Linked DNA regions of Homo sapiens. The protein of the gene in region 1 binds, or shares a complex with, the protein of each later gene. Each region holds a gene or a part of one and is shown in the gene's direction. Other genes may lie near its edges. The genes, in order: PCNA, POLD3, FEN1 and FBH1.

What was found.
Region 2: the proteins of PCNA (region 1) and POLD3 are in contact, whole or in part, in a crystal structure (PDB 1U76), measured with the Homo sapiens proteins. Residues at the interface, in NP_002583.1 of Homo sapiens: Met40, His44, Val45, Ser46, Leu47, Glu124, Gln125, Leu126, Gly127, Ile128, Pro129, Thr206, Ala208, Asp232, Val233, Pro234, Tyr250, Ala252, Pro253, Lys254, Ile255, Glu256, Asp257; in NP_006582.1 of Homo sapiens: Ala453 (codon at 3,584), Asn454 (codon at 3,587), Arg455 (codon at 3,590), Gln456 (codon at 3,593), Val457 (codon at 3,596), Ser458 (codon at 3,599), Ile459 (codon at 3,602), Thr460 (codon at 3,605), Phe462 (codon at 3,611), Phe463 (codon at 3,614), Gln464 (codon at 3,617), Arg465 (codon at 3,620).
Region 3: the proteins of PCNA (region 1) and FEN1 are in contact, whole or in part, in a crystal structure (PDB 1UL1), measured with the Homo sapiens proteins. Residues at the interface, in NP_002583.1 of Homo sapiens: Cys27, Asp29, Met40, His44, Val45, Ser46, Leu47, Ala67, Met68, Gly69, Asn95, Ala96, Asp97, Leu118, Met119, Asp120, Leu121, Asp122, Val123, Glu124, Gln125, Leu126, Gly127, Ile128, Pro129, Glu130, Gln131, Glu132, Glu201, Pro202; in NP_004102.1 of Homo sapiens: Arg19 (codon at 7,340), Phe27 (codon at 7,364), Gly28 (codon at 7,367), Arg29 (codon at 7,370), Lys30 (codon at 7,373), Lys80 (codon at 7,523), Val167 (codon at 7,784), Lys168 (codon at 7,787), Ala169 (codon at 7,790), Gly170 (codon at 7,793), Pro188, His208, Ser210, Arg211, Leu296, Lys297, Trp298, Ser299, Glu300, Arg332, Ser335, Thr336, Gln337, Gly338, Arg339, Leu340, Asp341, Phe343, Phe344, Lys345.
Region 4: the proteins of PCNA (region 1) and FBH1 are in contact, whole or in part, in a crystal structure (PDB 8F5Q), measured with the Homo sapiens proteins. Residues at the interface, in NP_002583.1 of Homo sapiens: Met40, Ser43, His44, Val45, Ser46, Leu47, Leu126, Gly127, Ile128, Pro129, Ala208, Asp232, Val233, Pro234, Tyr250, Leu251, Ala252, Pro253, Lys254, Ile255; in NP_835363.1 of Homo sapiens: Ser56, Gln57, Arg58, Cys59, Ile60, Pro61, Phe63, Phe64.

What each region holds. Positions count from the first base shown.
Region 1 is NC_000020.11:5,114,291-5,118,061, reverse strand, and holds the end of PCNA (proliferating cell nuclear antigen), read left to right. Parts: intron 1-397; coding exon 398-592; intron 593-2,489; coding exon 2,490-2,613; intron 2,614-2,699; coding exon 2,700-2,779; 3' UTR 2,780-3,109; downstream 3,110-3,771. UniProt on the Homo sapiens protein: Auxiliary protein of DNA polymerase delta and epsilon, is involved in the control of eukaryotic DNA replication by increasing the polymerase's processibility during elongation of the leading strand.
Region 2 is NC_000011.10:74,637,139-74,644,398, forward strand, and holds the end of POLD3 (DNA polymerase delta subunit 3), read left to right. Parts: intron 1-3,425; coding exon 3,426-3,628; 3' UTR 3,629-5,938; downstream 5,939-7,260. UniProt on the Homo sapiens protein: Accessory component of both the DNA polymerase delta complex and the DNA polymerase zeta complex.
Region 3 is NC_000011.10:61,788,077-61,797,175, forward strand, and holds the start of FEN1 (flap endonuclease 1), read left to right. Parts: upstream 1-4,834; 5' UTR 4,835-4,952; intron 4,953-7,264; 5' UTR 7,265-7,285; coding exon 7,286-8,428; 3' UTR 8,429-9,099. Other genes in the region: dolichyl-diphosphooligosaccharide--protein glycosyltransferase subunit TMEM258, read right to left, coding at 1,719-1,845, 2,417-2,526, 4,480-4,482. UniProt on the Homo sapiens protein: Structure-specific nuclease with 5'-flap endonuclease and 5'-3' exonuclease activities involved in DNA replication and repair.
Region 4 is NC_000010.11:5,884,529-5,893,632, forward strand, and holds the start of FBH1 (F-box DNA helicase 1), read left to right. Parts: upstream 1-5,714; 5' UTR 5,715-5,817; coding exon 5,818-5,818; intron 5,819-6,146; exon of another isoform or gene 6,147-6,588; intron 6,589-9,104. Other genes in the region: ANKRD16 (ankyrin repeat domain-containing protein 16), read right to left, coding at 1,195-1,237, 3,319-3,539, 4,513-4,826. UniProt on the Homo sapiens protein: 3'-5' DNA helicase and substrate-recognition component of the SCF(FBH1) E3 ubiquitin ligase complex that plays a key role in response to stalled/damaged replication forks.

The sequences.
Region 1 (3,771 bases):
AAAGCTGACTTGGAAGAAATTTATCCAGGTTAGGTTTATAAACACCAAAGGAGAGAAGAAATGTTTGAATGTTGAAAATGCCTAATATATTCTCTTGCTTTCTTTTAGAAAGTAGTTAGGCCTGCTTGCGCCATCATGATTTCTGTGCCATACTCTAATGTTCTCTTACTTTATCCCTGGAGGATGAGGAGGAGGAGGCTCTTGTTCCCTGGATGGTGCATTTAATAGCCATTTATTTTTTTGAGTGGAGTTTGTTAAGAAATTACGCAAGTCATATTTTAAAGTAATCAGAAAATATTGATTCTGAGTTGTTTAGGTGTTGCCTTTTAAGAAAGTGAGGGTGCCAAATCATTAAATTTCTAACAATTAACTTTTGGAAAATTTTTGTTCTTAATAGGAACAGGAGTACAGCTGTGTAGTAAAGATGCCTTCTGGTGAATTTGCACGTATATGCCGAGATCTCAGCCATATTGGAGATGCTGTTGTAATTTCCTGTGCAAAAGACGGAGTGAAATTTTCTGCAAGTGGAGAACTTGGAAATGGAAACATTAAATTGTCACAGACAAGTAATGTCGATAAAGAGGAGGAAGCTGTAAGTAGTTTTTAAGTAAAAAGAAAATAGTTTGAAGAGAATTATAATACTGCTTATTAGGTTAATTGCTAAAATTAAAAGTAGACAGAATTGGATCCCAAGTAATTTCTGAAAATTGAGATACTGTTGAAATCTGCGAATGATTTATAAGTGTCATCCAATTTAGAATTATATTTGCAAGAAGGGAATACAAATTCAGCACGTGTACATACCACAGAACAGTGGTTTATGGATCAAGTCCACACCGGCTCTTAAGGGTAGGATTGGGAAGTTAGGCGTATAACCTTTAGCTTTCTGGAGATACTTACTCTCTTACCAAATAATTGAGCATAGGACAGCAGCTCAATAGAAGGATATGGTTAGGAGTAAAAGTCTACCTGTTTGGAGCACTTATGTAATCCTAATATTAGCTTACATGTTGTGGGTCCAATTGGTAGCCCATTTTAAAGGTGGAGAAGCAGGCTGAGCAACCTTAAGTGACAATTTAGCCAAAGTCACAGGCTGTAGGAATCAAAGGTTAAACAGGAAGGAGACTTCTCACTAAGGCTAGAAAGCAGACTCCATGCAACTTTGAGAGTACCTAGAGAGCCCTTGTTTAACCAAAATAGAAAGAACATGGCAAAACCCCATCTCTACTAAAAATATAAAAATTAGCCGGGTGTGGTGGCGCACACCTGTAATCCCAGCTACTTGGAATGCTGAGATGGGAGAATGACTTGAACCGAGGAGGCGGAGGTTGCAGTGAGCCCAGATCATGCCACTCCCCTCCAGCCTGGGTGACAGAGCAAGATTCCATCTTAAACAAACAAAAAAAACTCGCTAACCTGGGCATAAATTAAAACTTTGTAAATCAAGGACAAAGGTCCTAACCTCATAACCTTGTTAGGATTAAATACGGTAGCATTAAAGAGCTTAGCATATGCTGTGTGTGGCATATTATAAGCTTACAATAAATACTATATATTGCTCTCTTGTCCCTTGAATGGGTAGTCAACATTTAGTTTAAATAAAGGTAAAATTCAGTTGAAAGGTTTTTTTTTAAATTAATAAAGTCTAGGAGCTGATTCTTTATCTGTTTCCTGAATCACATTTCCACTCCTGCCAACCTCGTTTTTTTCTTTTTCTGTTTTTCTTTGTTTTTGAGACAGGGTCTTGCTCTGTCCACCCAGGCTGGAGTGCGGTGGTGCAGTCGGTTCACTACAGCCTCAAACTCCAGGGCTTAAGTGATCCTCCTGCCTCAGTTTCCCAAGTAGCCGGGACTACAGGTGTGTGCCAACACACCTAGCCTGGTTTCCCCTAATTTCATTTTCCCCCTTCCATTACAATCTATTTGTTGAAGAAATTAGATCATTTATTAAGTTTTCCAGAGTTTGGATTTTGCTGATTGCATTCCTGTGTATACATAAATTCCTCTACCCTGTGTGTCCTACAGACTGGTAGCTATAGCCCTGGAGCCTTGATATTCAGGGTGTTTTGTTTCGGGGGTGAGAGAGCAAGAATATAGGTGGTGGTGTGTGCCTCTAGTAGGAGGCACAGGGTGTCTGGATGTGTTTGCAATGTTAGCAGCTATAATAGTCATTGTCTAGATCCATTAAGTCATTAATTAGAGTTTGCAGAGCTGAAATTAATACGTTTTATTCACTTATTGGCTGCTTATTAGAAAAACTTCCATAAAGAAAAGCTTTCCCATATTATATAATTTGGTTATCTAAATTATAGCTATAGGAAAGACAAGCTAGATAATCGAGTCTTTTGCTTTATGTATCAGTCTTCAAAATTTTCATAGCTCCCTCCAAAGTGACCAATACAAGTGTTTGTGGGTTTTTATAAATATATAATGAGCTAATAGATTGCAACTTTCTTGATGTTTTTCAATGATGAATCTTTTGTTTTGTAGGTTACCATAGAGATGAATGAACCAGTTCAACTAACTTTTGCACTGAGGTACCTGAACTTCTTTACAAAAGCCACTCCACTCTCTTCAACGGTGACACTCAGTATGTCTGCAGATGTACCCCTTGGTAAGATAATAAATTTGAACCTTGTTTTGTAGGTAGTCATATGTGATACATACTCCTCAGTAATTAACCATCTTCCTGTCTTTCAGTTGTAGAGTATAAAATTGCGGATATGGGACACTTAAAATACTACTTGGCTCCCAAGATCGAGGATGAAGAAGGATCTTAGGCATTCTTAAAATTCAAGAAAATAAAACTAAGCTCTTTGAGAACTGCTTCTAAGATGCCAGCATATACTGAAGTCTTTTCTGTCACCAAATTTGTACCTCTAAGTACATATGTAGATATTGTTTTCTGTAAATAACCTATTTTTTTCTCTATTCTCTGCAATTTGTTTAAAGAATAAAGTCCAAAGTCAGATCTGGTCTAGTTAACCTAGAAGTATTTTTGTCTCTTAGAAATACTTGTGATTTTTATAATACAAAAGGGTCTTGACTCTAAATGCAGTTTTAAGAATTGTTTTTGAATTTAAATAAAGTTACTTGAATTTCAAACATCACAGGGCAGTGTCTTCATTTTGACCAGGACTGTTGGAAGTATCCTACTGAATTCCCAGCTACAGCTACCCTTTCGTTTAAATGGTTTTTCAGTTTAGAGCAGCCTGATGGAGATCAAAAGGATTTCAAATACAGTAGGTTACTAGATATTTTAGGGGATTCACTTGTCAAACTTGTTATTCCAATTTGAGCTCAAGGAACAAGTGAGAGAGTAGTACAAATCCTGTGTATTTCATTTTACTTGGCAAAAATTAATACTCTTCAGAAGCTTAATGTACCGAAAGTCGTGTGGGCTTTATAAGATGTTAATGGAGTGTTTCTTTTTAGCCTGGGGAATCTTACAAGAGTCTTGGATGTTTCAGTAGAGCTGTAATGGGGCCCAAGGAGTATGGTTGTACAAAATTTCTCTAGTATAAGTACACTTTGCAACTTCACTCAAAGGATGAAGATGTCTTAAATTCCACGGATGTTGGATCCAACCAAGAAAGTGAAAAAGCCCTGAAGTTGTGAAGAAAGACTTAAAAACATTCCCACTAATAGCTACAAGTTCACTGTGTGCTGTGTATTAAGAATTTTTTGCCAGGCACGGTGCCTCACACCTGTAATCCCAGCACTTTGGGAGGTAGGCGGATCAACTAAAGTCAGGAGTTCGAGACCAGCCTGG
Region 2 (7,260 bases), on another chromosome or scaffold:
TTTTCCCTGTTACTGATTTTTTTTTTTCCTAGTTCAGACTTGTTTTGAAAAGATTGGCTCTGAAGAATCAACCTTTCCAGGTTCTTAAAACTAGTGAAGACATTTTGTCATCTGTGCTCCCTGTCCCACTATTCCCCACCTCCCAGTCCTCTGAAAAGGCCTCTGCCATTTTAATTGTAACATGTGATTGGGGAGTAAAATTCTTTACGTGTGGAAATTCTGTCTTTTCAGTGCCAAATTTCTTGTGAACCTGTGAATTCTGGACTTTGAATGGGTTTTTTTTTTTCTTTTTCTTCCTTTTTTTTTTTTTTTTGGCTTTCAGTCTTTTAATAGTTGCCATTTTCAAGCCTCTTGGTTTGGCCATGGGTGATAATATATGTGTTTACTGTTGAATTTCTTAATTCAACAGTGCATTTTTTAAATTTAAGAGGACAAAAACATTGGTGCCAGTTTTTTCCTCCTCTTTCTGCCCCAAAAGAAAAAAGTCAAACGTCTTTGTGAGAGTGAGAGTTCATTGGGAATTTGTGGGTAATTATTTATTGCTTTGTTTAAAATATAGTACTCGAGTTTTGGCCAGGTGTGTGATGTGGACTTTTTTGCACTCCTGTCTCCAGACAGGACTGTTAAGAGCCTTGGATGCAGCAGTGAAAACTGTGCTCACATTGCACTTTTTTTTTTTTTTTTAAAGGTTTTTGGTCCAAGCTCAACCTAATGAATCTTGGCTTTGGTTACCAACAAAGGAGTTCTGCTTTCCTCTCTCTGCTCAGACTGTTCCAAATGTACCAGCATAGGGGGCTTGCCCTGTCCTGTGCTGGATCAGATTTGTTCTATGGGTTTAGAAAGCTCATCTTTCTCTCTTTGTGACTTTGCAGCAGAAATTGGGTAGTTGGGCCCCTGAGATAAGTTTGGAGTAGACTTCTGGACAAGGGAATGGGTTTCTAAGAGCAAAGCAGTTAAGTGGAAAAGAAATCTGATGTTACCCACGAAAACCAGGTTTGTTTGCCTTTTTTTAATGGCAACCCAGAAAAGTGGCATGTTGTTCAGCTAAAATAAAGGCCCTATATTTTTAATGGAGACCTCCTTTTTTCTGGGGTTTGCGGTAGCTACAGCTTTGAATATAGAAATATTCCTTTTAGTTCTTACAGTATACTGAATATGCTGCTAAAGAAATTTTGTTGGTGCTGCCCTGACTGTTTTTTAACTCCCCTGAGCAATGTCTCACACAAAATTGGCAATGAGACAGCCATTGATTTCATTAATAAGTAATGAAATAATGAGCTAATTGATGCTGAAGTATAATGTAGACATGCTGCCATTTGAGTACAGAATATAGCTTATGAAGGAGCAAAGTCTTATACCACCAACTAGTAGAAAGTAATTTCCTTTCTGTATCTGTAGATGGCTCTTCAGACTTTTCTAATTTAAGATATTGAATAAATAACAGCTCGTAATTTTGTCCCATTAATTCAGTTACATAATGCTTTTGAAGATGCATGTGAGATGGAGGTGGTGTTCTGGGGTCTAATTGCTGAACGAATAGGTATGCCATGGGAATTCTCTAATTATCTTAGAGCAACATTTCTCAAACTTTGCCGGCTATGTGCATTACTTGAAGATCTTGCTAAAATTGAAATTCTGCATCAGTAGGCCAGGAGTGGGAACTGAGAGTGCATTCCTAATAAGCTCATGGGAGATTCTGTTGCCTCTGGTGTGCGGAGCACAATTTGAGTAGTAAGGCCTTTCAGAATACTTAATATATATCTAAAATTTATCAGTATTTTTTAGCCTCTAAGTGAACATCAAAGTGAATTCTGGGCTCTTACAAAATTAAAGACAAACTCTGGGAACTCTCTGGGAAGGGATTGTTGATTATGCAGCCTTAATGGGATTAGCTGGATAAGAGGGACGGAATGCTCCAGTGGCAATTGCACTTCAACATTTAAAACAGGGAAGGAGAGAACATTAATTCCCAGAGTGTGGTCCCCAGACCAGCAGCATCAGCATTATCTGGGAGCATGTTAGAGAAGCAAATTCTCAGGTCCCACCCCAGATCTGCTGAGTCTGAAACTTGAGAAACAGAATCTGGCAATCTATGTTTTAACAAGCCCTCCAGGTGGTTCTGATGCACAGTAAAGTTTGAGATGATATCTTAAGTAGCAGAGTAGGTATTGGGACACACATACATTTGATTCCAAAGCTTATGCCTCTAGAACAATTTGATATATTTTATTAGAAAGAATTATCAATAAAAGCTCAAGACTGTCATTGTTCTTTAATGGAAAAAAAAACCTTTTACTTTAATCATTTGAGCATTTATTATGCATATTAGGTTACGCTTTTCAGCTAAGAACAAGCTCTTTTCCTTCAATGTTTCTCTATCGCTTGCTGCAACCAGGAAGGCTGAGAAAGAATTTAGATAGCATTGGTTATACAGCTGCCACAGCTCTCTAAAATTACAGAAAGGTGGCATGCTGTTTCTTGTGGTTGGTATATGTGTTGCAGTAGTGTAGATCCTCCTCGGTTATGTGACGTCATGGCTGGAAGCCACTATCTGTGCCTGTGTCCTTTGGGGCTTGCTCATAATGACTGCTTACTGTTACAGTTCTTTTCCAAGTTTCCCTTGGGAAGGGTTCAGTGAGTTTTAATAGCAGGGGAAAAGCAATTTATGCCTTCGGCTGATAGGGAGTAAGAAAACTGGTAACTTTGTTTCTCAATTTATCACTGTCATTCCTTTAACACGTGTGTCATCCGATAGCATTTGCTTGAGATAGTTAACCTTCATGATACAGACTACTACTAAATTTTGGGTTAATTTGCAGCCATTAAGAACTAAGAACCGAACAGTTGAGTAACTAATCTTCAATTCTCTGTACCTAGGATGTGCAGAGAGTGGGTGGCATCAGGTTAGAGCTAGACAGGAGGGTCCATGGTGACCTTGGTTAAACAGAATGGAGGCAGGCAAATAGGCCAGCAGTTTAAGACCAGTAACGGGAATAGGCAGGCATTGTAGGTCAGAGAGGTGATACTTAAGAAGCCAGTCAAAGCATGGAGTTAGAAGTAAGTGTTTAAGATATAGACAATTCGGATATAGAGTTCAGGAAGTTAGCCAGCATAGGCCAGGACCCAAATAAAGGATTTAGGCAATTCACTGATAAAGGGCCATTTAAAGGCATGGGATATAGCTGTGAGGGAGAAAAGTGAACGTTAATTCTAAGCATCAAATAGAGACTGTGTGAGCTCAGGATCCCACATAGTTCCTACCTTAGGCTAGATCTGATCTCCCAGTGGGAGAAAGATTGAGTCCTAAGTAAGCATATTTGCCTTGATCAGAGTCTGAAATGATTGGGGTTAGCAAGACATCCCATTTTCTTCATAGAGTAAATGATTCAGCCCACCCATGTTCCATTTTTTTCTCATCCTACCAGTGACTGAAAAAGTCTACGAGAGTGAATCCTGCACAGATAGTGAAGAGGAGCTTAACATGAAGACATCCTCAGTACACAGACCCCCTGCCATGACTGTGAAAAAAGAACCCAGAGAGGAACGAAAGGGCCCCAAGAAAGGGACTGCTGCTCTGGGCAAAGCCAACAGACAGGTGTCCATTACTGGCTTCTTCCAGAGGAAATAAACTGCCATCTCTGGTAGATCAGAGACTTGGAGTGGTCAAGGGAGAAGACCAAGAAATGTACTCCTCACTTACTATGTAAGTTCATCTAGATCTCCACCTCACCTGTATCAAAAGACTGTTCTTTCATCCTGTGAGGTTTATACTATTTCTGGTTTTTAACCAAAAGGAAATCATCTGGAAGCAGGAGGCAAAAAGCTGTTACCTTCTAATGACATTTAAAAAGCACAGTCTTTGACCTGTCCAGGAGAAGGATTTACTCCAAAATTATACTGGAACAGTTTTCAGAATTCTCACTGAAGCCATTTAGTGGCTAACCCACTGTGCTCCACTCACCCTATGCCCTGGTCCGCATATGGCACAGGAATTATTCCTTCTTGTTCCTCTGTATTCTAAGAATTCATGTGGGTGTTTCTTATCCTTACATTCTGCTGGATACGTTTACCCCTCTTGTCTTCCTGCAGTACCACACTTCTGTCCCCTAACCTCCTGAGGCTGTTCTCTGTAAGTCTTTTAAGTTTTGGTTGGACTAAAGGCTGAAGTGAAAATCTCCCTGTAATCCTCTTCCTCCATTATGCAGTACACGGACACCTGGCTACAGACCAGGACGTGGCTTGTGTTCTGTTCCTTTCACAAAAGCTCTCTGGGACCTTCACTTGCAATTAGTGGTTAGGGAAAAGCCTCAGGCAGAACACAAATAGAAATTTAATGATGTGTTCAACTCCACCAGAAATTACCTCGAGTCAGCATTGACGATATTGGAGGAGCTGCCGTGCTGCTGATACGGGGTGTGCTTTATGCTGCTCTTTGCGGTTTGTTGATCCCCTCCTCCCCCACTCTCAATACCTAGAGAGTGAAACCCGTACAATGAGATAAAGACTAAAAAGAGAAATCCCTTCCTATATACAGTGTGCTACATTTACAAAAAATTTCTCCTTAAGAAAACAGAATATTCAAAAACAGCACTTTTCCAGGAAGTTAGTGAGGAAGATAAGGCACACATTTATTTATAAATGGATGTTGCTCCTTTGTATTTTTAGCTTCCCTATTTGCTTAAAAGTACAGGCTCCCTAAGAGAGGATGGAGAGGGAGAGACTGAATTGTTAGTAGGTCTAAACATCAAAGAAAACATTTTTATTAGTTACTTATGGAAAATCATCTATTACAATGATAACCTTCAAGTGACTTCCATTATGGCTGGACAGGCGGTGAGCTCAGTGGATTGCAGTGGTGTGCTGGTGATTTTGCACAGTGAGCTCTGCGGAAGGGGTCAGGCTCAACTGCTGATGTGTCTCACACGTAGCAGACAAGGGGTGTCTGACTGGCTTCTTTTGCCTCAAGATGGTGTATGTCGTAAGTGATGCAATCAGCTGTCTGCTTTTTAAGGTTGGGATTGTGCTGACTTTGGGATTAACATGAGCTTCTTTAGCAACCAAGCATGAACTTGATTAAGACCAGAAGTTTGGGAGATGAGTCCTGGCATTATGTCTAGGACTAAAGCAGTGGCTTTGTATAGCAAGCTGAGTAAAGGTTGACATATTCCAAAACCCTTCTTTTTAAAAGGAAAAAGGATGGAGAGAAGGATGGAAAGCCTGGACTTAAACCTTTAGAAAAAACTTCTGGAGAGAAATCCCTTTTAAACAGTTACTTTTGTCATTGCCTCTGGTCATTTGTCTAAATAGGAATGGAAAATTAAAAGAAAAGCAACAATCCAATCTTTTTTCTAAAAATTATGCTGGGGTCTCGACTAAAACTGAATTTGAATTGGAAAATTCTGGTGTTGGTTGGAGTTCCATCTTGCAAGGGATAATACAAATCCTATGATCTCTATGCCCAATATGCTGCCTCAACTCTGAGCTGTCTGCAAGGCTTAGTAAGTATTGAGTGGTGTTTTTTTTTTCTTTTTATACAATACCATGTTAACCACATGAGTTAAATAAATTTGAGAAGTTGTTTTAAAACAGTGCTTCAAACTGAGTATCTGATGAGTCTCTTATTTGATGGATGGTAACAGTGTTGCAATTATTTAAGCTCTGAATGGGAAGAAGGCTGGTTTTCAGTTGATATTGTTAAAACTGCATACCCACAGTCTGAGATGAACAAGTTATTTGCTGCCTTCATCGTTTTTTTCAGCACTGGGGAAATGTTAGTTTCAGCCAACCTCATTTTTTAGTTCATCTAGAAGAAAATCTAGCACATTGTATTAGTTTGGCTTCATCACTTGCTAGCTGTATGACTGTGGGCAAGTTTCACAGCCTCAAGTTCTTTATCAAAATAAAACTAAAATGAGTTACCAAGGGTGTCAAGACTAAAGTCAAGTGTATGTAGCATGAATTCGGTCCATGTTGGCGGTCACATACGCGCTCTACAAAATGGTGGCTTTCTTTCTGATGTCATAAGTGATGTAATCAGCTAGCAGCTTCCTGAAATGTTATCAGTTATACGACCCAGGTGGTATATTCTTCAGTCATTCTGGCTGTACATGTAGTAAAAAGGGGAAGATAGTTGTCCTATTTCATGAAAGGTTTAAAGAGAGTAGATATTTTCCTACTGAAGGAATTATAGATGCCTATATTTACTGTTCATTTATTGTGTATCTACTATGTGTCAAGCCCATGACCTGGGGACTAGAGGATATAATAGAAACCATAGAATTTGGCACTTGATCCTCACAATTTAGTGGAAGGGAAAGCCAGTAAAATGAAATGACAGTGCCATATGTGAGTGCAATGTACAGGGTCCTCCAAGAGTTCCCAGGAGGATGGGTATCAAGGCAGTCTTCCTGGAGCAAGCAGTTCTTTGAATGATGAGCAGGATTTCACCCAGCAAAGAGGAATGGAAATGACTTTCCAGGCAGAGGAGCATGGCTTTTGGGAGAGGTGGGCTGTAGAACTTGAGAATAGGGAGGAAAATGTATTCAGAAATGAAGTTGGGGCCTTGCTAAGCAGTTTGGATTTGATTTGTAGATAATGGGAGCCAACTGAAGAAATTTAAGAAGAGTAACAGAAGTTGGTTCTCAGTTAAGAGTGACAGCCAGTATTTACTTTGATTTTGTATCCATGATAGTATTTCTACCCTTGCATATGCACATTGTATCTTAAAATTCTAGCGGGATTAAAGAAAACCATCTTGGTTAAAACAAGGCCGCTTAATTCTGGCAGTCAGCATAGACAATTGCAGTGTTTCCCTTGTCTTCCCCCGTCAACATAGATTTCTGTAGCAGAATCAATTTTTTAAAGTGATTTCAAAAGCTGGTATTTCTTCTTTGACACTCTCAGTGATGAGCCTCCACTCACCTCCCTGGAAAAAACTGGGAATTCAGGGGCAGAGGGGGCTGGTAAACGAGTGAAACAGTTCTCTATTCCTTTTCTATCTTTGTTTCTTTAAGAAGACATTAGTTATTATACAGGAGAGGGCTGAAGAGAAGGGCCATATAAGGAAACTAAATAGTTTCTCCAGGACATGAGTAGAATGAGTGCCTAATAATGTATTTGCCAGAAACGTACTCTGTGTCAAGACTCGTTTTGGTAAACTTGTCTCCTTTCATTGGTTCCAGGATCTCAGTATGCTGTAATGCAGCTTTTACCACCATGAAACATTTTGGGGCTGCCTCGTTTTGTTGTGAGAAGGCAGTA
Region 3 (9,099 bases), on another chromosome or scaffold:
CTTCAGGGAAGGTAAGTGGGCCACCTGCTGGAAGCTGCCAGCTGCCCGGCTGGCAATGGTGTGAGTGTCTTGGCCCTGTCCCTGCCCTGGGGTCCAGCAGGTCATCCCTCCCTTCTTCTCTCTCCTTTGGCGTTTGTTCCTGTAGTCACTGGGCTAATCTCCCCCTAGCTTCAAGCTGTACATAGGGCCTCCCAGTGCAAATCCTCCTGCCCATACCGTGCACCCTTAGAAGCCTGCGTGTGCATAGAGCGCCCCCTACTTCCCAGTTAACTCCCAGTTCTTCTCCCTGAGCTTGGTATTTGTCATGTGCCAACTCTGACTCTGAGGTGGGCAGTGAGGGAAGCAGCCCCGGGCCTGCTTGCTTCCTGTCCCCGAAATGTTCGTTTCTTCTGAAGTAAATATACATATATAAATAAATGTATAAATACTGCTTTGTATCTGAGCTTGCCTCCTTGTCTCTTCTTGGGATTGGTCTGGTGGGAGAGGAGTCACCTATAAGGCTAGGGCCAATTGGAATTCAAAGTTCTTCCTGAGAAGCCTGGAATCTCTGAGCGCCTGAACCAGAGGGCCAAATGGATGCTTCATACCCCTTATCCTCTTAGCTTCATATTGGGGCTAGGAGTGGACTCATCAGCCTCTCCCATGGCCACACCTTCCCCTCCTGCGCACCCGCTGCTGCCCACCTGCATTAAAAGTAGCCACTGAGGAGAAAAGCCTTCTTAGGGGGAGAAGCTGAGCCTGGTGAGGATGCCCCAGCACAGAGAATGGTGGCTATGTTTATGGCAGGGACTGGCCTAGGGCAGAATGGACCGATGTGGGTTCCCAGAGAAGTTTGTCCTAGAAACAATAGAAAAGGGTAGGCCCAGACCCTATCCACAGGTAAGCCTTAAATTCCAATGACAAAACACCGGTGCTACACAAATCTCATCCCCCTTAAGTAGATCAGCAGCAGGAACTGTGAAAGGCAGATGAGAAATGGGAAAGGGAAGAGATTGGGGAAGCAATGTAGGTCCCAGCACCCACCACCCCTGCAGAATGGGCCCCAGACAGGACTGCTATACATCTGCATTTATTATGAGCAGCAGGTGGGACACTTCCAGCAACAGTAAAAAAAAGTAATTTACAAAAGCAGGTTTCAGTGAAGCCATCTGGTTGTTACCTAAAAGAGGAGAGGGGTATCAAAATAAGACCAATGGCCCTTCTTTCCTCCTTCTCTCCCTGCACCCCTGTGCTCCTGGGGCAAGGGCTATTGAGCACACACCTCTGAGGATGAGCCACCAGAGCTGATTCCTAGTGGCCTGTTTGGTGGATTGTCTGCAGCAAGTTTTAAGCCCTGGATCTTGACCCCCTTTCAGCCAGCTGACTTCCCAGCAGCCTCTCCAAGTCACTGGGGTCTGACTTCTAAGAATGTAAATGTACAGCCATGGGATGCCTGCGTCCACACTTCTAGGTGGTACATCCCAAAGGCAGATCGAGGCCTTGGGCCATGTGAGCTCAGAACTGAGAGTCACATTTGGCTCAAATCCGTATGAGGGGCAGGGAAAGAGGCACAAATGTCTAGTGTCCCTACCCATTCCACTGAGTCTGTCTCCATCAACCAAGGGGTCATGCTGGTAAGAGCTTTAAGGACCCTGCTGACCTGACTCTGGGGAGGCTTCCCTGGGCTGTGCCTTGGAGGCTCACGCATCCATCCCATTGCAGCTCTTACCCTTGGGTGCTCACACGTAGATGCCAACCCAGAGCAGCAGGAAGAGGACTCCAAAGCCCATGAAGAGTGAGGCCACTAAGGAGATGAGGAGCTCTTTATAGATATCACGAGTGTACTTGGTAGAGGTGACCTCGTAACTGGGCACAGCAGTTAAGGCAAAGCGAAGGGGTGGACTGTGGAGTGCAGAGAGCCCAGCCCACGGCAATCTGAGGAGAAAAGCATTGGCTCAATGCCTTCTGGGAGGCCTATCTGGCTCAGAGCAGCCAGGCAGAGGGGCCTAAGAGATGCCTTGGACTCTGGTGCTCCACTGCCATGAAGAAAATGAGACCCAGAGGAGTTAGGTCACTTGCCCCAGGTCACACAGCTCATGAGGGCCGGAGCTGGGACTAGCCCTCAGACCTCCTGACACCTGAGTGCACCCTTCCTTATACCACCTTTCCAACTGTAGCACCCCTATTCCCCACCTCCACTCCAGCCAGGTCCCCTGCTCACTGTCCTGGAAATCCAAAGAACAAACTGAGCTCACCTGAACTTGGGAAATAAGGCTATAACCTGCCCCTGGGCATCACTAGCCCTCCTCTCCTCCTTACCTTCTCTCAGCCCCAATCCAATGTACAAAACCGGCGGGGTCCATGTACCTAGCGTGGTTTCTCCCTGAGCTTCCCACATCACTAATGCTGGTCCTCTGGCTGCTCAGTGAAAGGATACACGAAGAACCAGGCGGTGAAGAACATGCCAATGGCCAAAAGCACCACGGTCAGATGGGGGAAGACAGCTGGGTTCACTGGGCTGGTATATCTGCTCATGGCCTCGAGCTCCTAGAGGAGGGAAAGAGATCAGAGCTATCAAAGAATCCCACGATTTCAGCCTGGAGAGAACATGCGGTTATCAAGGAGCCTGGTGCTGCCGTGAAACAGAGGCTGATTTTAGCCCGGAAATGTAGCTGCAGATCAATGGCCCTTATTAGCATTTTCTGAGGCCAATAATCTGACCACTATGAAAACGTGACTAAAGGTACGAACTCTCTGCCTGAGAAAAACCACATACAAGAAAAAGTTTGCCTACAATTTCCGGAGCTTTGTGGACCAGTGTCTATAGACACCAAGCTGAGAACCCCCGCTATAAGTCACTGACTGGTGGTACCCAGATCTCAATATCTTTTTTTTTTGACGGAGTCTCATTTTTTGGACGGCGTCTCACTCTGTCGCCCGGGCTGGAGGGCAGTGGCACGATCTCGGCTCACTGCAACCTCTGCCTCCCGGGTTCTAGAGATTCTCATACCTCAGCCTCTCGAGTAGCTGGGACTATAGGATTACAGGTGCGCACCACCACATCTAATTTTTGTATTTTTAGTAGAGATGGGGTTTTGCCATGCTGGCCAGGATGGTCTTGAATTCCTGACCTCAGGTGATCTGCCTGCCTCGGCCTCCCAAAGTACTGAGATTACAGGTGTGAGTTGCCGCGCCCAGGCTCAATTTTTTTTTTTTTCCAGACAGTCTTGCTCTATCGCCCAGGCTGGAGTGCCTGGAGTGCAGTGGTGCCAACTCGGCTCACTGCAAGCTCCGCCTTCTGGGTTCAAGTGATTATCCTGCCTCAGCCTCCCGAGCAGCTGGGATTACAGGCGTGAACCACCATGCCCGGCTAATTTTTTGTATTTTTAGGAGAGACAGGGTTTCACCTTGCTGGCCAGGCTGGTCTTGAACTTCTGACCTCCTGATCCGCTCGCCTCAGCCTCCCAAAGTGCTGGGATTACAGGAGTGAACCACCGCGCCTGGCCCTCAATTTCTAATTCAGTATTTTCCTCACTACCTATGCTATTATGGAATCTTGTGAGCTATGGTCAAGACATTCAAGTTCTGGTTCTGAGTAATCTGAGTCTGAGTAAAGCGACTGTAATATCTATTTCACAGAACTGAAAAATAAGAAAGATGATGAATCAAAGCATCTAGTGCCTAGCAGGGAGTATTTTGCTCAACAGGTATTTGCTTCCTTCCTAAGGCTGTAGGGAAGATGATGAGATAATGTCTTTTATGAAAGAGGGCTGTAAACGTAAAGATCTGTACAAATGTTAACTTCATTGTCACCGGTCAGCCAATGCTTCTAAAATCCAGAACATAACAACTCTAGAGAAGTAAACTGCCCCCATTGTTCTGAGACACTGGAATTCAATTCAGTAAACAATCACGGCCCCCTTCCCCCAAAATGATAAAGACAATCACTGCCATTTATTGAGCTTCCAATTACGGGCCCTCTGTTTGGCACTGAGAATACAAAGATGAATAGACATCATCCCAGAGCTAGATGCGCGTCAGACGGTGGTCACTAGGAGGCGTGGCCGAAAACAAAGAAGTCCATGGAACGTGGCCAGAGATCTGTACAGAGGCTGTGGGCGCTCCTAGGAAAGTCTGGCCAAGTGCCTGAGAGTTGGAAGTGCTTCACCAATAAACATTTGCCCAGGGCATTGTAGGATGGGCACGGGTTCGGCAGAAGAACTTTCCAAATAAAGATAACACACCACCGATAACAGAGATATACAAACTGGAAGGTATTCAAAATTCGCCCCACGCCTCTCGCCCTTAGAAATCGCGAGCTGAGAAACCTAAGGAGTTCATGGCAAGGGGCTTCCCCCTTCCCCACCCTTCAGCCCAAGCCGGAGGTTCCAGGAGCGTCTAGCCCTCTGGATCTCCGGCGTCTGAGGAGATAAGCGCGGTGTGGGTCAGACCCCGAGGGGTCCTCGCATCTCCGTCTGGAACTCCCCTCAACGCTCTCACCATTTTGCCCCGCGAAGGCTAATCCGCCGCTCCGCCACCGGAAGAACACGTCGGCAGGAGCAGGCGCCTAGCACAACCGGAAAAGGAAGTGCCTCCGGCGCAAGTGGCATTGAGGGACTTGTAGTCCTGCGATTTCGGGTGTAGAGGGAGCAGGGGCCTGCGGGGACCTGGTGTGGGTGGAGTGGGGACAAGCGGTGGAGAAGGGTACGCCAGGGTCGCTGAGAGACTCTGTTCTCCCTGGAGGGACTGGTTGCCATGAGAGCAGCCGTCTGAGGGGACGCAGCCTGCACTACGCGCCCCAAGAGGCTGTGCGTGGCGAGCAGGTCACGTGACGGGAGCGCGGGCTTTGGAAGGCGGCTGAACGTCAGGCCACCCGCCGCTAAGCTGAGAAGGGAGAGCGAGCTTAGGACCGCCTGCCCGGGGCAACCCCGAACCAAGCTTTAGCCGCCGAGGCCGCGTGTCCCAAAGGCCAGGTGAGACCCCATGGGAAGCGCCTCCGGGAGCGACGGGGTCCGCTTGGCGCTGGGGGCCGTGGGGAGCCGGGGTCTGGAGTGCGCGGGATTCGCAGTCAAGAGGTCCCGCCACTTTTCCCCCTGTGAGCCTTGGGCCAGTCGCGTAAGCTCCGAGCCTCTCTTTCCTCCATTGTAGAAAAGCGGTAATAAGTTCCACCTTATGGGGTCGTGTTGTATTTTTCCTAAGACCTTGGACGAGAAACATTTCTGACACTTGAGTTGTTTAGGCCCCTTTCCTGCCTACCTGTCTGTGGGACGCCGTGAGGGGATCAAGGGCTACATGGTCTGGTCCTCAGTCCACACTCCAGCAGCGCGGCCGGCTTGAGGCAAGAGCCGAAGGGTTGAACAGGCCTGGAGAGGGGACATTAGAGGTTTCTGTCTGTTGTCTCAGTTAACCCTGGCAGCAGCCCTGAGAGACAGGCATGGTAATCGTTCTTCTTCTGTAGACGAGAAAATAAACCTCAGTGGCTTGGTAATGTCACACGGATGGTAAATGCCGCGCCTAGATTCAAGGCCAGAGCTTTTGCCGCTGCAGTTCACAGGGGAATTATTCATATTAATCAAATGAATAATTCATTGTCAATTAATTATTAATTGATTAATAATCCAGGGATGGACCTGGAAGGACGCGTGAGAGGATGGCGAGAGGAGGGCACAGCTAAGGAAAAGTGGGAAAAGGCGGGCCTTATTCCAGCTTTCTGTTGAGATCCCAGAATGTAGGGTTAGGTTGGGAACCAGAACATGAAAGATCGTGATGCCATGCTGAAGTGTTTGGACTGAATTAGAAGGAAGAATTGAACAGTCATTGATGCTCTAGAAAGAACCCTGTGAAGAAAGAGTGGGAACAATGAAAAGGCCTGATGGAGTCTTTCGTTTCTTCTTTCTCTTTTCTTTTGTCTTCTTTTCTTTTCTTGACAGGGTCTTGCTCTGTTGCCCAGGCTGGAGTGTGGTGGCACAATCATAGCTCACTGTAGCCTGGAACTCCTGGGCTCATGTGATCCTCCCACCACGGCCTCCCAAAGTGCTGGGATTACTGCCCAGAGCCTCTGTGCCTGGCCCCAGTAGAATATTTCTTGGAGTATTGGACACATACCAACAGTGGGCACAAGATGAGTTTTTTATTTTTTTGAGACGGAGTCTCACTCTCTTGCTAGGCTGGAGTGCAGCGGCACAATCTCGGCTCACTGCATTCTCTGCCTCCTGGGTTCAAGCGATTCTCCTGCCTCAGCCTCCCGAGTAGCTGGGATTACAGGTGCACACCACCACACCCAGCTAATTTTTTTTTTTTTTGTATTTTTAGTAGAGACAGGGTTTCACCGTGTTGGCCAGGATGGCAAGATGATTTTAAATTGCACCCCCTAAAAATCCTTTTTAATAGTTATACATTTAATACATATTAAAATATAACTAATAGAACACAAATATTATTGCTTATGAGTTTTCCAGTTTAGTTTTTTAAAAAAAATTCTAAGTGAATGAAAGTACGGGTTTTAGTTGGAAGTAGCAAAAATCGTGAGGGTGATTTGGGAAACACTGCTATCTGGGAAACACTGAACTCTGAAGTGCAATACTCTTTTGAGCCCAGTGACTACAGCATGCCAGACCCCTAAATCAGGACCTGGGGAGGAGCCATGGAGTTAACATTTCAGACTGAGTGGTGGCGAGAAAACGCAAAGGGAAAGACTTGAAACTCTAGCAACATTATAATAAAAGTAGAAACTCTTATGTGCTGAGGCGATGATGAAGAGAGTTTAGAGAAGCTTGTGAGAAAGCCACATCACCTCCATTCAGATATGTTTGCAATCCTTTTTCAAGGCTGCCTTATTAGTCAGGGTTCTCCAGAGACTCAAAACAAATCAGATCTGTTTGTTTAGCTGGTGTATTTGCCTGTCTTTCAGGTCTGCCATTATGGTCCCTGGACTCCTCAAGCCAGGCCAAGCATCCTGGCCTTCTGTGGTCCTTGATGGAGACCTATGTTGCAGGTTTTTTTTGTGTAATAAATAATGCTGCTACCTTAGAATATCAACAGTATCTTATTTCTCTAAGCACGTGGTTCAATTTCTGGTACTCGTTGAGCCTTACTATTGAGTAAATTCTCCTGCTAGACTGAGTTTTTTGAGAATGGGGACCTTGTTCATCTTTTTATCTTTAGCAGTGCTGACATGGTGTCCTTTTTGTTGTGTGGAATTTAGTTGAAGGCATGAAGTTGGTGAGATAACACCAGTTATAACCTTTCTCCTTTCCTCCGTCTCTGACTTGCCTTTCTTTTTTAGTCATCCCTCCTCTGTGTTGCCATGGGAATTCAAGGCCTGGCCAAACTAATTGCTGATGTGGCCCCCAGTGCCATCCGGGAGAATGACATCAAGAGCTACTTTGGCCGTAAGGTGGCCATTGATGCCTCTATGAGCATTTATCAGTTCCTGATTGCTGTTCGCCAGGGTGGGGATGTGCTGCAGAATGAGGAGGGTGAGACCACCAGCCACCTGATGGGCATGTTCTACCGCACCATTCGCATGATGGAGAACGGCATCAAGCCCGTGTATGTCTTTGATGGCAAGCCGCCACAGCTCAAGTCAGGCGAGCTGGCCAAACGCAGTGAGCGGCGGGCTGAGGCAGAGAAGCAGCTGCAGCAGGCTCAGGCTGCTGGGGCCGAGCAGGAGGTGGAAAAATTCACTAAGCGGCTGGTGAAGGTCACTAAGCAGCACAATGATGAGTGCAAACATCTGCTGAGCCTCATGGGCATCCCTTATCTTGATGCACCCAGTGAGGCAGAGGCCAGCTGTGCTGCCCTGGTGAAGGCTGGCAAAGTCTATGCTGCGGCTACCGAGGACATGGACTGCCTCACCTTCGGCAGCCCTGTGCTAATGCGACACCTGACTGCCAGTGAAGCCAAAAAGCTGCCAATCCAGGAATTCCACCTGAGCCGGATTCTGCAGGAGCTGGGCCTGAACCAGGAACAGTTTGTGGATCTGTGCATCCTGCTAGGCAGTGACTACTGTGAGAGTATCCGGGGTATTGGGCCCAAGCGGGCTGTGGACCTCATCCAGAAGCACAAGAGCATCGAGGAGATCGTGCGGCGACTTGACCCCAACAAGTACCCTGTGCCAGAAAATTGGCTCCACAAGGAGGCTCACCAGCTCTTCTTGGAACCTGAGGTGCTGGACCCAGAGTCTGTGGAGCTGAAGTGGAGCGAGCCAAATGAAGAAGAGCTGATCAAGTTCATGTGTGGTGAAAAGCAGTTCTCTGAGGAGCGAATCCGCAGTGGGGTCAAGAGGCTGAGTAAGAGCCGCCAAGGCAGCACCCAGGGCCGCCTGGATGATTTCTTCAAGGTGACCGGCTCACTCTCTTCAGCTAAGCGCAAGGAGCCAGAACCCAAGGGATCCACTAAGAAGAAGGCAAAGACTGGGGCAGCAGGGAAGTTTAAAAGGGGAAAATAAATGTGTTTCCCCATTATACCTCCTTCACCCCAGAATATTTGCCGTCTTGTACCCTTAAGAGCTACAGCTAGAGAAACCTTCACGGGGTGGAGAGAGGATTCTAAGGCTTTTCTAGCGTGACCCTTTTCAGTAGTGCTAGTCCCTTTTTTACTTGATCTTAATGGCAAGAAGGCCACAGAGGTACTTTTCCTTTTTTAGCTCAGGAAAATATGTCAGGCTCAAACCACTTCTCAGGCAGTTTAATGGACACTAAGTCCATTGTTACATGAAAGTGATAGATAGCAACAAGTTTTGGAGAAGAGAGAGGGAGATAAAAGGGGGAGACAAAAGATGTACAGAAATGATTTCCTGGCTGGCCAACTGGTGGCCAGTGGGAGGTGATGGTGGACCTAGACTGTGCTTTTCTGTCTTGTTCAGCCTTGACCCACCTTGAGAGAGAGCCACCAGGAAGGCGCATCTTAGCAGATGGGAGGAACTGCTGAGAGAAGATGGGCAGAAAGCTGGAGCCCCTGGAGTTGGCTGTGTCTGTGTTTGTGACTGATTACTGGCTGTGTCTTGGGTGGGCAGAAACTCGAACTTGCTATGTAATTTGTGTCTAGTTATTCAGAGGAGTAAGATGGTGATGTTCACCTGGCAATCAGCTGAGTTGAGACTTTGGAATAAGACACTGG
Region 4 (9,104 bases), on another chromosome or scaffold:
AAGACCAGCCTGGCCAATGTGGTGAAACCCCGTCTCTACCAAAAATATAAAAAATTAGCCAGGTATGGTGGCATGCACCTGCAATCCCAGCTACTTAGGAGGTTGAGGCAGGAGAATCGCTTGAACCTGGGAGGTGGAGGTTGCAGTGAGCTGAGATTGCACCATTGCAGTCCAGCCTGGGTGACAAAAGCAAAACTCCATCTCAAAAACTAAAAAAAAAAAAAAAAAAAGGAAAATCCTCAATGTGGCTGATAGCATTCATTCTCCCACCCCTTCACTGTTCAGGCTCAGCATATTCTAGGCGTCTTTTGTTTTCTTAAATGTACCACAGTTGTTCCTGGTTTGGAGCATCCGTGGGTGCTGTTATTGCTGTCTGGAATGGTCCCTTGCCTCCCGCTTTCAGCTAATTTCTTTTTCTCCTTCAGGTCACAGCTTAAACACTGGCGCTGAGATTCTTTACTCTTAAGCCAAATTGGGTCTTCCCATTATTTGTTCTGTAGGGATCCTGCAAGTCCTTGTAATGCACAACAGACTTTCGGGACTCCTTCATGGTCTGTCTTTCCTGCCAGTCTGTTGAGTTCCAGGAGGGTAGAAACTACATGTGTCTTCTTTCTGTTGTGGCCCTTGCACCTGGTACAGGGCTTTATTTATTTTTTATTTATTTTTTTTTGAGACAGAGTCTTGCTCTGTTGCCAAGGCTGGACTGCAGTGGCGCGATCTCGGCTCACTGCAAGCTCCGCCTCTTGGGTTCACGCCATTCTCCTGCCTCAGCTTCCTGAGTAGCTGGGACTACAGGCGCCCGCCACCACGCCCGGCTAATTTTTTTTGAATTTTTAGTAGAGACAGGGTTTCGCTGTGTTAGCCAGGATGGTCTCGATCTTCTGACCTTGTGATCCGCCCGCCTCGGCCTCGCAAAGTGCTGGGATTACAGGCGTGAGCCACCGAGCACTAAATGAATGTATAAATGCTCGTTGAAAAAAATAGAGAAATGGATGATTTTGCCGCTGAAAACATTTTCCCCAGATATTTGTTATTTTTGTTTCATATTCTTTATCTGCTATGTCTTTTGTTCATTTTTCTTTTGAAAGCCTAATTTTTTTCTTAAAAATGTGTCTGAGCTCTTTATGTAGCACTGATATCAACTCTTTGTCATAGTTAGCAAATATTTTCCCTGACTTGCTGTATTGTTCTTACCTCTTAAGAAGCACCTTGACTGCCTCCAAATGGCCATGCATTGCTGGGAGGAGAAAGAAAGCTGAGAATTAGAGCTTTTTAGTGCACACACAAAATGCTTCCTGCCTCCTGGCTTTGCTCTCTGCCCCGTTCTATTAGTGATAGCTTACAAGAAGGAGTCATTAAATTGGGTACACTGTTACCGCCCTACACGAATAAATATTTAACTGGATAAAGCGGTAAACAATAATGTTTTCACTTTATATGTACACAGCCAACACTTGATTATCTTATCTTCACGTGCACTTTCATGGGAAACTTTCAATCCTAAAGTTACACTTCTGTGCTGTGGATCCCCAAGACTAGTCCATTTTTGCCCAGGAAATGCAAAATATTGTAACAGTAATCCATGGCAAAATAGCCTGGATTTAATTCCCCTACTAAAAGTAACTATACTCAAAGGTTATGACTATTTGTCTTCCACTATTTTGGGTGAATGATGGAGTGCTGATTGTTTCTCCAGGGGAGAAACTGGTCAAATAATTCATGAGCTAAAAAAAAGTTTTCTACTTACTTAAGAAGTTTTAGAAATGATTCCTTGGTCCCTAATTGCCAACTGTGGCTCATGCCTGTAATCCCAGCACTTTGGGAGGCCAAGGTGGGTGGATCACTTCAGGTCAGGAGTTCAAGACCAGCCTGGCCAACAAGGGGAAACCCCATCTCTACTAAAAATATGAAAATTAGCTGGGCATGGTGGCATGCGCCAGTAATCCCAGCTTCTCGGGAGACTGAGGCACGTGAATTGCTTGAACCTGCGAGGCAGAGGTTGCAGTGAGCCGAGATCGTGCCACTGTATTCCAGCCTGGGTGACAGAGCAAGACTCTGTCTCAAAAAAAAACAAAAGACAAAAAGCAACACTATAAAACATCACAAGTGATGATTTTTAGAGAAACTAAAAGCCCTCTATCCTAATCAATGTACTACCTAGAAAGCTACAAGTTATATTCTGAATTTCTTAATCTAGACTCTTGAGCTCCTTAATATCTAACTTCTGAAATTACAGTAATTTTACTTTTTACTAATTGTTTTCTTTTTACTTTCTTCAAACAAATGAGCAAATTGAAACTTTTTACTAAAATAATCTACAAATAGATAATTCAGAGTTAAGAGTCACTACTCCAAATAATAAAAACTGTAACCCAAATTTACATTAGATGTTATTGGGCCAAGGTATTTAATTATGAGTATCTATATTTATTTAAAAGTATAGCACTATGGTAGGTGTTACTAAGGCTATGAGGATATATATTTCCCTCCTGCCTTTAAGAGTAAGAATGTAAACATGATAAAGAAAATAGCACTAACCAGTTATTTTGTGCTATGTGCCAAGCATTGTCTAAAGGATTTACATACATCATGCTCTTTAAACTCTACAACAACCCTGAGACATACCATCACTGACATTATTATTTGGTTGATGAGGAAACTTGCTCAAGAGAGAGACTAATTTCCTTACCCAAGGTCAAAGACTATGTGCTACAGAACCAGCTCATGGGCAAATAATCTAGGGAGGATAACACAGATACACACGAAAAATAAATTAATACCACAGCATGCTAGCCAAGTTATGTTAACTTTAGAAATTGATTATATGCCAAAAGGCCCCTAGATGCTTTTTTTTTTTTTTTGAGATGGAGTTTTGCTCTTGTTGCCCAGGCTGTAGTGTAATGTAGTGCAATCTTGGCTTAGTACAACCTCTGCCTCCTGGGTTCAAGCCATTCTCCTGCCTCAGACTCTGGAGCTCCCCAGTAGCTGGGATTACAAGCAGCCGCCACCACGCCCGGCTAATTTTTTGTATTTTTAGTAGAGACGGCGTTTCACCATGTTGGCCAGGCTGGTCTTGAACGCCTGACCTCAGGTGATCCACCCGCCTCCGGCCTCCCAAAGTGCTGGGATTACAGGCGTGAGCCACTGCACCCGCGCCCCCGCCCCCACCCCCTCCCCCCCAGATGTTCTTATTCTCTGCCTTCTGTTTTCCAAAATCCTCCTTTCCCCTGAAGGTGACCTGAACAAGATGCGGTTGGGCAGTGCTGGGTGAAGCAGCCACATGTGTGTACTGCTCACCTGCAGAGCTGTAGGCTGTACCTGCAGTATGCAGAGGAGTCCTTCTAATTTTGCTCTCTGTCTTCCAGGCACCTGGGCAAACAGTGAGCAGGTACTGGAGGATCAGAGGGTCGCCTTCTCGACTGGCAATGTGGAAACTGTTCCAGCCATCTTTGTTCTTCAGGAGTGGATTGGCGCCATGTTCCACCAGCTCCTGGATCACCCCCAGGTTCTTCCTTGTGCAGGCCATCATCAGAGGAGTCCTAAGGCCAACCAGGAGAAGCTGTCAGATGGAGGCAGCTGAGACATTAGAAGCCAGGGGCCAGGTCTTCAAAACACACACATCCTTGGCACAGATGGAAAACCTAGAGGATTCAGGGGTCTGGCAGGCAGGAAAACAGCTTTGACCGGCAACCTCTGTGCCTTCTGTGAGGACCCTGGGAGAAATAATAAGGGGAAAATGATTGTAACGAACGTGTACCTAGAGGAGAGGGTGCCTGGGAGACAAAGCAGCTTATAAGCTAGTTCACAGGATAGCAGTGAATTGGAGCAGAGCTAAGAAAACCCACAGACAACCCTCAACACATAACGAAGTCTATTCCCCTGCCCCAGTGGGGAAGATGTACTTCCCTATGTTCCTAAAGATGTTCACGCCCTCTAACGAACCTGACCTAGTGAGTACTAAAATCAGTGTCAATCTAACAAACGAAATGCAATTGGCTTGTGTGATGGTGGAGCAGAGTATCTCTGACTGTGGTGGTTATGCAAGGCTGCACGTATGTGATACAACTGCACTGTGCTCTACACACACGAGCGCGTGTATAACTCAGGAATTCTGGATATTGATTGGAGCAATGCCACTTGAAACAATGCATTGGTGCAGAAGTAACTTAGCTAAATGTCCCCAGAACATCGCATCCGGAGGCTATCTGTATAGTGCACACACTTCATTGTTTGGTAACATTCTCTTTGGTTATATTCTACACTATTCCGTGCTCTAGAAAGGGAGGTGACTGCCCCGACCAGTTAACCCACAAGGGCAGGAACGAGGGACTCTGCAGGTCATCTGCGTTATAAGGGAAAGTTGGGCAGGAGGTCCCTGCCGCTGAGCAGGCCTGGGGTGAGAACTAGGAGCTGAGAACAGCTACGGTGTCCAAGGGGACGGAGAAGCACAGGGAACTCGCTACGACTCTGCGAGTAGAGGGGAGGCGGGGTGTCTTTCCGCTCCACACCTACCAGTCGGCCTTCTTCAGGCAGTCGACCGCTGCCCCCCGGCCCAGCAGGTAGCGCACGCAGTCTCGGTGGCCCATGGAGGCCGCCTCGTGCAGAGGCCGCTTGTAGTCTCGGTTGGTGGCCTCGATGTCCATGCCCCAGGCCTCGGCCAGATAGGCCAGCACGTCCCGATGCCCGTGGCGCGCGGCGCAGTGCAGGAGGGTATCCCCGGCCGGCCCCGGGCAGCCCCCGGCCGCCTGCAGCTCCTCCTTCAGGGCGCGCAGCCGGCCCTCCTGCACCAGCCTGCAGAGGCGCCGCGGGTCCCCGGGCTGGGCCATCGCCGCGGGTCGGGCCGGGCTGCGCGGGGAGGCGGCGGGCGGGACACCGGCGGCCGGGCAGGGAGAAGCCGAGGGCGAGTGGGACTTTCCGCCTCTTCACGCAACCTGCCCCGCGCGCCCCGAACCCGGCAGAACCGCCCCTCACGCCCCCGGCTTTGTCCCCGGCAGAGCCGCCTCCTCAAACCCCCGGCCTAGTCCGCAGGCGGGCTGCCCCCTCACAGCCCCGGCCTGCCCCGCGTGGGAGAAGCCGCGGTTCCGGGCACGGGGCGGTTTTTCCTCAGGGACGGAGCGGTCCGGGATGAGCACGGAGGGGCCTGGGGATCCGAGAGCGCTGGCGTCCGCCGTCCTGGAGCTGCAGCGGCCCGTACGTGATTCGGGACTGAACACGTAAGGGAGTGGGGCGCGCCGCTACACCGCAAAGCCCCAAAGTGGAGGGTCCGGGAGGGCGCGCACAGCCTCGCCCGGCGCCGTGCAGGGTGGCTCCTGAGGCAGCCAGGCCCAAGCGTGACCTGCCCCGCACGCGTCCTCAGGGCCGCCCCAGCCTCCAGCCCCTGGGGGCCGGCGTTCCTGGGCTCCGCCCCCGTCCCCGCCCCTCGACCGCCGCTGCTCCGCGGGGACTCGGGGAGCTCGAAGGAACTCTGGGAAAGTTTCCCGCTCCGCCCCGGCCCGAGCGGAAGCGCGGATGGGGCGTGGCCCGGTAGCTGTGGCCGCGCCCCCACCGATTGCGCATTTCGATTGGCGTTAGTGGCCGTCCGTCAGCACGCCCCCTCCGGTCTCGCGTCCCGATTGGTCGCGGGGGCCGTCAGTCCGGCTCCGGCGGCGGGCGCTTCCCGGGGCTGCGGCGGGGCGGAGCTCGCGGAGGAAGTCGGCGGGCGTCTCGGGCTCCAGGTCCCGGCCAGAGGAGGAGCTCGCTGCCGGGGGACGCTGGGCTGAGCGGCCGGCGGCGCGGGCCCGGCGGCGGCGGCAGCGGGGTCCGGGTCCGGAGCGCCACAGTGCGTGAGGCCGCAGACGTGGCAGGGAGTGTGGGAGGGGCTCCGCCGTGTGGAAAACTTAACCTCCGGGGTCCTGCGCGGGGGGTCCGGGCCCGGGGTGGGGCAGCGGGGGCCCCGGGGGCGCGAGGCTGGGCTCGGGCAAGCGCGGGCGTGGGGGCTCGGCCGTCCGGGCCGTGGGCAGGTGGAGGGCGCGGCGGGGGTGCGCGGGGGAGGCCAGGGCGCTCACTGAACTCGGTCGGGAGCGGCCCCCGCGCTGCCCCCCGAGGCCAGGAAGGCGCAGCGTGTGGGTCCTCGGGGCTGAAGGGGCAAGCGCGGGGACGTGGCCTCGGCTGCTAGGAGGCCAGGCTTTCCCGTCTACTCTGACGTTTTGACCTTGGGCAAGTCATTTTTCGCTGCCCTCTGCCCCTGTGTCATCGGTAGCTTCTCTGCCCCTCCTCTGAGCATGGGAAGCCTAAGGCGATGTGGGAGGCCTGGCGCTGGTGGAGGGCACGGCGAGAGCTGGGCAGGCTGTGGGTGATGGAAGAGATCAGTAGGTGTTGGGTTCCTTACCCGATCTGATTAGGTGCCAGTCACTTAACCTCTCCATGTTTTCGATTCCTTTAGGGAGTAGAATGGGAGTAGCTCCTATTTGCCAGGCCTAAAAACGAGTGCCGTTTACATTTTTTATTGCAGTCTGTGGTCCGAAGACAACCCTATGAGGCATCAGTAGGGTTTTACAGGTGGGGAAGTGGAGGCCTAACCAAGTCAGTGACTTTCTTACAGAATTACAGGTAATAAAGTCTTCTGGAAGGCAGGATGGTAGCATGTGTTGAGTGTCCGCCAGCGTCTGCCGCTGTGGTAAAATGAGCGGAGATAAATGAAAAGACTTCTGGAATGGGCCCATGAAGATAAGTCCGTTTTACTCATGAGCAGATTGAGTTTGGTTAAGGTAACAGTGATGTGGATAGCCTCTGGAGACAGAACTAGTCCAAGTACCAGCTTTGCTCAGGTTATTGTTCTGTCGTGCCTTGTCACTCCAGCAAAAGAAAAAAAGGAAGGCATAAAAGTTGTTTGAAATGCACAAAAGTGTAGGGCGTGCCAAGCAGTGTTCTGCTGCCGTTGAAGTTAGTGCAAATTGGAAGTTGAGGCATCTGGTAGCTTCATGCTTTTTGCTTTTACCCCTGCCCCTCTCCCAGTTTCAGATGACTATCTTCTCTTGCATTATGTCTCTAGTTTCCCTGTTTTTTAAACATAATTGGGACACACGGGTTCACAGTAGGTTGGAATATATATATATATTTTGAGACAGAGTCTCGCTCTGTTGCTCCGGGTGGAGTGCAGTGGCACGATCTCGGCTCACTGCAACCTCCCCCTCCCGGGTTCAAGCAATTCTCCTGCCTCAGCCTCCCGAGTAGCTGGGATTACAGGCGTGTGCCACCATGCTCGGCTAATTTTTTTGTATTTTTAGTAGAGACGGGGTTTCACCATGTTGGCCAGGCTGGTCTTTAAACTCCTGGCCTCAAGTAATTCACCCAGCTCGGCCTCCCAAATGCTGGGATTACAGGCGTGAGCCACCGTGCCTAGCCAGGTTGGAATATTTGAACCCAGGATAATTGGTTACTTCATTGGTGTTGCACATTCGATTCTGCCTCTTGTGTCTTCTCTATGAACCTTCTTTGCTCTGTATCCCCCTTTGGATAACTAAATGATAATGTATGTGAATCTGTCCCGCAGCTCCTGTGATTTTCTGGGCAAAAGCTTGGTCTAGAGGGGCGGGATCTGAACAGTAAGCTAATGGATGGAGCTGTTTCCTGGGTCTTGCTGTTTTCCGGTTGGGCTGCTCATTTCTTTCGTGCAGACTTTTGGAGGTTGTGGTCTGGCCTTTACAGTCACGTCACATGTAGTCGTCATTGGCACCGACTTGCTCCTTGGCTGCCCTTCCTTTTCCTCCTGTTTTTCATGGGTATGCTGTTGAGCATGCCCATTGGTACACTGATCATTTGACAGGTTTCGTGATTTGTGAGTGTGTGTAGACACCACTATTGGTATTAGATTTAGAATTCTAATTTTGGGTTTGTTGACATCATCTTTTTGCTGCTTATCTCATTCCTCTATCCCTCCTAGGCTGATTTTATTTGGAAACTGAATTTGGATTCCATCTTTGCCTTTCTGGCTGTGAAATTACCTACTTTTAGAAAGCATCTCAAATCTTATATCTGTAACTGTCATTCACATGCCTTTTGAAGACCAGTCTCAGATTTCAGAGGACCTCCTGGAGCATAAACATGGTATTCCACAGATAACTTAAAGCCAGAAATTATTTTTAAAACTAGGACTTTCAGCCTCCCTCTCACTCCGGGGGAAAAAGTGATTAAAACACAAACACTGTTTCTCTTTTATTCCTTAACATGGTTAATGACATTAACATCTCTTTGAATGTTCTACTAGAAATGCCAGTTATCCTTGTTGCTCTTTATCTTTTATCTTTCTGTCTTGTCAAACAAAGCCATGTTCTTATGCACCTGCAGGGTCTGCTACTCTCAGGCCTTTGCCAATTCTCACATAGGTTGATATGGTGGCTTTCTGAGTTGTTTTCCTGACAATCTCCATGTCTCTCCACCTTCTATCCTCTCTCCCGAGTCACTGTCCTAAAGTGTAAATTTGATTGTGTAATGACCCTGCTTTAAAAATTGGATGAGGCCGGGCGCGGTGGCTGACGCCTGTAATCCTACCACTTTGGGAGGCCGAGGCAGGTGTATTGCCTGAGCTCAGGAGTTCTAGACCAGCCTGGGCAACACGGTGAAATCCTATCTCTACTAAAATACAAAAAATTAGCTGGCTGTGGCGGTGTGCACCTGTAGTCCCAGCTACTCGGAAGACTGAGGCAGGAGAATCACTTGAACCTGGGAGGCGGAGGTTGCAATGAGCCGAGACTGTGCCATTGTACCCCAGCCTGGACCACAGACAGAGTGAGACTCTGTCTGAAAACAAAAAACAAACAAACAAACAAAATTGGATGATACCTTGAAGCCCCTACCTGATAAAGTCCAATTTCTTTTTTTGAAGCCCAATTTCTTTATCATTATGTGTAAGGACCTTTGTAGTCTGTGGCTCCAAATTCCTTTTCCAGCCTTATCTCCTGTCATTCCTCATCAGGGAACCTCTTGTTTTGATGAAGCCCAGCTTTCCTGCCACTCTAGTGCATTGTTAATGCCTCTGTATTTTTGCACACATTGTTTCCTTCCGCCTTACTGAATCCCATGATTCTTTCAAGACTCAACTCTTCGTGAAGCCTTTTTCAACTTGC